2 separate regions of the Homo sapiens genome follow, and region 1 is linked to region 2. Evidence: fine-mapped expression QTL. Tissue or cell type: nasal epithelium. Region 2 holds a variant in brackets; the other region holds the start of a gene. All regions are shown on one strand. Distances are between the middles of the regions.

Evidence for each region.
Region 1: it holds the start of MERTK, and the variant in region 2 is fine-mapped to the expression of MERTK in nasal epithelium (TOPMed, PIP above 0.99).

The regions. Positions count from the first base shown.
Region 1 is chr2:111,897,055-111,899,961 of GRCh38, reverse strand. MERTK (MER proto-oncogene, tyrosine kinase) reads right to left here and starts at 1,355. Exons shown (of 19, transcript NM_006343.3): 1 at 1,166-1,355. The coding sequence starts at 1,226. RefSeq lists an enhancer at 1,887-2,216.
Region 2 is chr2:112,030,646-112,033,552 of GRCh38, reverse strand. No RefSeq gene overlaps it. Among named protein-coding and RNA genes, the nearest start is that of TMEM87B, 23 kb to the left of the region's middle. The variant C/T (reference allele first, on the strand shown) is at 1,338.

The DNA.
Region 1 (2,907 bases), 130 kb after region 2:
TCCAGCCTCCTCAAGAAGTGCATCAGCGATCAAACTTGAAATCTGTTCATCACTCACTCCCCAAATAAGCTGTTCAAGCAGAATGAAACCGGCCTTCCTTGCCTCCACGTATCAGTCCAGCATCTTGTATTAAAATGCCTGGAACAAGCCGGGCGCGGTGGCTCACGACTGTAATCCCAGAACTTTGGGAGGCCAAGGAGAGCAGATCACGAGGTCAAGAGATCGAGACCATCCTGGCCAACATGGTGAAACCCCGTCTCTACTAAAAATACAAAAATTAGCCGGACGTGGTAGCGCGCGTCTATAGTCTCAGCTACTCGGGAGGCTGAGGCAGGAGAATCGCTTGAACCCGGGAGGCGGAGCCTGCAGTGAGCCGAGATCGCGCCGCGGCACTCCAGCCTGGGCGACAGGGCGAGACTCGGTCTCAAATTAAAAAAAAAAAAGCCTGTAACAACACTTCGCTGAATCCAGATAAACGTAAACGCTGCCGAGCACTGTAAGTTCTGTTCTGCCATAACAGGAGTGAAAAGAACGCTCCCCTTTTCCCACACTCTCTGGGTGCCCCTAAAAAGGGATACTAATAATGCCCGTAAGGGCCCATTGGGAGCAGCCAGGACTGCCGTCCCCCCCTGGCCCGTCGCTCGGCCTCAGTCTATCGCGGCTCCCGGACTGCGGCTCCGACTCCCGCAGCCCGTTCGTTCGCCCCGCGCCGGTCCCTCGGGAGACCGGATCTGTGGCCCCCGGGACTCCGGCCAGAGCGGGGCCCCACCATGCAACTCTAGTGGAAAGTTCTCGTCGCATCCCAGACCAGACCTGCTACCTACGTTCCACTCGTCGGAACTTCAGGACTTGCAGCGCGCCCGGCCGAGCTCGATTTCCTCCTCTGCGGTGAAGAGGGGAGCCTGCAACGCCGACCCCGACCCGGCTTCACCACGATGCGCACCCGCAAGCCAGGCTGGGTGCCCTCGGGACGCTTGAGGCGCCGCGGTCAGTGGACGGTAGGTTCGCCTACGCCCCCTCCTCTGGCACCGCAGTGGGTGGAGGGTGTTTGCAAACTTGTCCAGCAGCCAGGCGCGCCCCTGTGGACGCGCTCCCTCCCCAGAGGCCCCTGCTTCCTCCTGGGAGCCCCCACCCCCTCGCCTGGCCCCCAGCCGGGCGCACTCACCTCTACGCCAGAGCGCGGGGAGGAAGAGGCCCAGCAGCAGCGGCAGCGGGGCCGGCCCCATCCCGGGGCTGCGGATCTGTAATTTCTCTCCGGACGGATGGACAGATGGACGTCCCGAACCTGTCCTGTCGCCGGCCAAGCGCGCCAGCGAAGCTCCCTGTCCGGGCGGCCCGGGCAGTGAGTGCCGAGTGGCGGAGCCAAGCGGCCGGCGGGAGGTGCCGAGGGCTGGAAGGGGCGGGCCGGGGGCCGAGCCGAGGCCGGCCGGGGCTGGAGGAGAGGAGCGGGCAGGGGGGCGAGTCCCGGCGGGCCCAGCAGGTTGGGGTGGGAGGGGGCGGGAGGACGAGGGGGAGGAGGGGCGTAAAGGGGAAAGGGAGGGGGTTGGAGAGAAGGGGCGGGCCGAAGGCCGCCGCTGGGCAGACGGCGGGGAAGGGGGCGGAGAGGAAGGGGAGGGGGCTGAGAGACCCGGAGGGAGCCGGAAAGAGAAGTGAAGGGGAGGGGTGGACTGGAGGTCCACAGCGGAAGGCTCTGGCCGCTGCGCGGGTCCGGGGCCCCACACGTGTGGGTGGGAGATGGGGAAGGACAGAAGGTGGGAGAGGAGTAGAGGATGCCCGAGGCAGCCCCCAGACCCAAGAGGAGGGTCCAGAGGCGCCCCCGCATTCCGGGCTTGGCTGACACAGAAAACCCTGGCCGCGCCGCTCCCAGAGGCCAAGGCCAGGGCGGCAGCGCTCCCTGCCGAGCGCTCCTCCACATCCATTCCGCTCGCCGCCGAGCGCCGCCTGGGTACCCGGCCCGAGGTGCGCGACACGGCCCTGGCGGCGAGGAGCTCACCTCCCCAGGGGGAGGGGTTCCTGGGAAAGGACGCTTTGCCGTGGCTCCGTGACGAGCCAGAGAGAGGTGACACTCAAGGAGGGAGATGAACGTGAATGACAAAGTGCAGAGCAGGAGTGGGGAGAGGGGGAACCACAGCACGTCACTCTCATGGGCCTCCACAAGGTGTGCAGGGTCCAAGAGGCAGTAGCAGAGAGTGAGTCGTAAGAGAAATGTAACTACTTACGCTAATAATGGCAACAGTAACTTAATTTATATACGTAGTTTCTTAAAGGTAACACTTTTAGAATGAATGTATTTTAATGTGGTCCCTTTAACAACATAACATAAGCCAAATCATGTCCCTCTCCTCAAATCTCCCTAAACCTATCAGTGGTTCCTGCTGTCTCTGCGTACGTAAGCCAAGGTTCTGCAGTGGTCTACGAGGTTCTACGTGACCTGGTCCCCTTTCCTCTTTGGCCTCATCTCCTTACGCCTCTTCAATTTACGTTGGTCTCGTCAAGCGGTCCCTTGACCCCTACACTGGCTGGACACTTCCCGTAGATTTGGCTACGGGAAGGAGACAGGCAGCCCAGATGGGTTTAGACAGGTTATTACTTACACCGACAGCAAAAGCAAAATCAGTGTGGTGTCAGCTCCATGCATCCTTAGGCCTACAAGATAACACCAAACTGGAAGGGTCAGTGTTATCCTATGGGTCTACATAATTTAACAAAAATAAATAAATAAATAAATAAATAAATAAGACAACATGAGCCCTGCCGCTGAGTAGCCAAGTCTAAATTACACCAAGCAGTTTTATAGACTTCACAGGAGCCTGCCGCTGTATGCTTGGAGGGAAGCGGGCTGGGCGGTGGAGGGAGGGATATGGAAAGTCCTGCAGTCAACTGAAACGTTGGAGAAGGAAGAGAAAT
Region 2 (2,907 bases):
AGCTTTAAAAGAAAGAAAATAAAATCTAAGGATAGGAACATTGTGCATCATTGAAACATTTATTAAAGAAAACAAAACTTCCCATTTTCTCATTTGTCACTCAGTTACTAAACATCTTTAGAGAAGTTAAGTTGCTGTTGTAGCTAGTTTATTATTGGGTCAGTTACTTTCCCACGGACTCAGCAGAAGTTCCAACTTGCTTTTGCCATTGACCAGGAAAAGTTACAAAAGTCTTGACTTTCATGAATCAGAACTGGTCTGGCTAGAATCAGCCTGCTCTGTAAAAGAAGAGACTGTGGTTTGGCCCATTTCCCAGGTGGGGAACCTCTGCTAGGTCTGGCAGACATGGAGGCAGAGAGGGAATATCCCCTTCCTGGGATAGCATTCTGACCCACCACATGTCCCCAAATGCTCCTGGTAAAGCAAGCCACCATTGCTTGTCATAACCCACATATTGGGGAGAGGCGCAATGAGGCTTGTATCATCAGTAGCTAAACCCCAGGATAGACAAGAGGAAGGTAGTTCCAGCTCCTGAGCCCAGTGGCTGTTTGAGGTGAGGACTGAGGGCCTCCTCCTTCACTCTGAACTTCCCCAACTGTGCGTTTCTGGCTAAGGCGAAATACTATCTCTTTCTCTTTTCAAATTATGAATGACTGTGTTTATTTTGGAGGGAGTTGATGAAACAATCAGGGAAAATGTTTCTTTTTCTTTTTTTTTTTGAGATGGAGTCTTGCTCTGTTGCCCCATCTAGAGTGCCATGGTGTGATTACAGCCCAGTGCAGCCTTGAGCTTTGAGGCTCAAGTGATCCTCCCACCTCAGCTTCCTGAGCAGCTGGGACCACAATTGCATGCCACCATCCCTGGCTAATTTCTTTTTTATTTTTTATAGAGACAGGGTCTCCCTATGTTGCCCAGGCTGGTCTTGAACTACTAGGTTCAAGCAATCCTCTCTCCTCGGCCATCAAAAGTGTTGGGATTACAGGCGTGAGCCACCACGCCTGGCTGAAAATATTTTGAATATGACAAATGTTGCTGGGTTTGCACTGCATAAGGAATGATGCCACAAATTGAGAACAGCCTCTTGTGAGTATAATATTCTTTCGAAGACCTTGCCTCCTCCCCTTCTTACACAGGGTGTTGCAGAAAAAGGCATTGGTATGTTTACTGAACACTTGAGAAAACTGGGGCTCAAGGAAAGTCAAGTGACCTGCCCACGATTGCCCAAGGACATCTGGCAGGGTGAGCTCCTATCCAGCCCACCTCTGACCATATGGCCTGGCTCACCATGAAGAGTGCTTTGGTGTCTTTTTTTTTTTGTTTTCCAAGAGTTGCCCTGA[C/T]GCTTGATTCTCATTTCTACTCATTAAGAAAAGCAACAGAAAGGAAAAAAAAAACAACACAAAAGAAAGAAAATCCTCACAAGGGAGGGCAAGTCTCAACGTGCCAGTCACGAGTGCTTCTGGCATATGTCTGTTTCCTTGTCCTTTCGACCTCCTGATCCTGAGCCCCAGCACGGTTAAGACAATTAACCCGACTTGTTTCTTCCTGTTTCCTCTCTCCCTTTTTTTTGCCTACAAGAGCCACTTACAAAAGTAATTTGAGTTTCTATGAAAGAGAATTTGAAACGCTGTTTTCAGTTTATGCTCAGAAGACAGTATGAGAGTTTGCCAATGACTGGATCATCTGAAAGTTAGTTCTTTCCAAATTTTCAAATATTCAGATGTGGCTAAGAAGAACACCAACATTCTCAGTGCGGAGATTTAAATGTGAAGAACAATGGTAGCCCAGCTTCATTCTCATTCATCACACCACTTTTAACCAACACTTGGGTGCATCACGCTGTGTGCTGAAGTGAATTTCTCTGCTACGTTTCTTGATGTCTCAAGAAAAGCCAGAAGCCACAGCTGGCTCAGCTTTCTACACTCTCCTGCGGCAGAACTGGCCCGGGCTCCCCAGCCCTGCTCAGACCACACAGAAGATACTGGACAGGATTTAGAGGGCTGTGGGGTGTTTGATGAACTATTCATTGTACATTTTTTACATTATGCTGTTAAAATTAGAAATATAAAATACAAAGTACTGTATATGAGCATAGATATTTAATATTAAGTTTATATTAAACTTCCAAATAACATTTTTCAATGTTTATAATTACTTATTTTGCTCATAGATATGAGCATACCTTTCTATTTTGGGGTGGGTTTTTTTTGTTTGAACTAGTCACCATCAGGTTCTGATCAAGACTTTAATGATCAGTTCTTCAACTTCCTGCTACTTACCATCGATAAGAAACTGTTTATACAAGTAGGTGATAAATTTTTTTATTTTTTAATGACCAAAAATTTTCAACAGTGTAAGTTATCTTTATAGGAGCTACAGCTTTTTTTCTTTCACGAATAAAATGTAATGGTGGCATTTTACAGATTCTTTTCAAACCCTCAGAACTTTTTTTTTTAATTTTTAGAGACACAGTCTCCCTCTGTCACCCAGGCTAGAGTGCAGTGGCACAATCACAGCTCATTGTAACCTCAAACTCCTGGGCTCAAGTGATCCTCCTGCCTCAGCCTCCAGAGTAGCTAGGACTACAGGCACACACCACCATTTCTGGCTAATTTTTTCTTGTAGATATAGGGTCTCACTATGTCGTCCAGGCTGGTCTTGAACTCCTGAGCTCAAGTGATCCTCCTGCCTTGCCTCCTGAAGTGTTGGGATTACAGTTGTGAATCCCCACATCTGGCCAGAACTTTTTCATATGGAGCATTTCACAGTAACAGAGGAGCCGGCTCACCCTGGAGATTGGGTGCCTGGGTGGGCAGCTGGGACCAGAACCTGGGTGAGAGCCACACTGTTGGACCCCATGTAGATTCTGATTCTTGAAGACTGTGGGAGAGGCCTAGGCGAGGCTGCTTA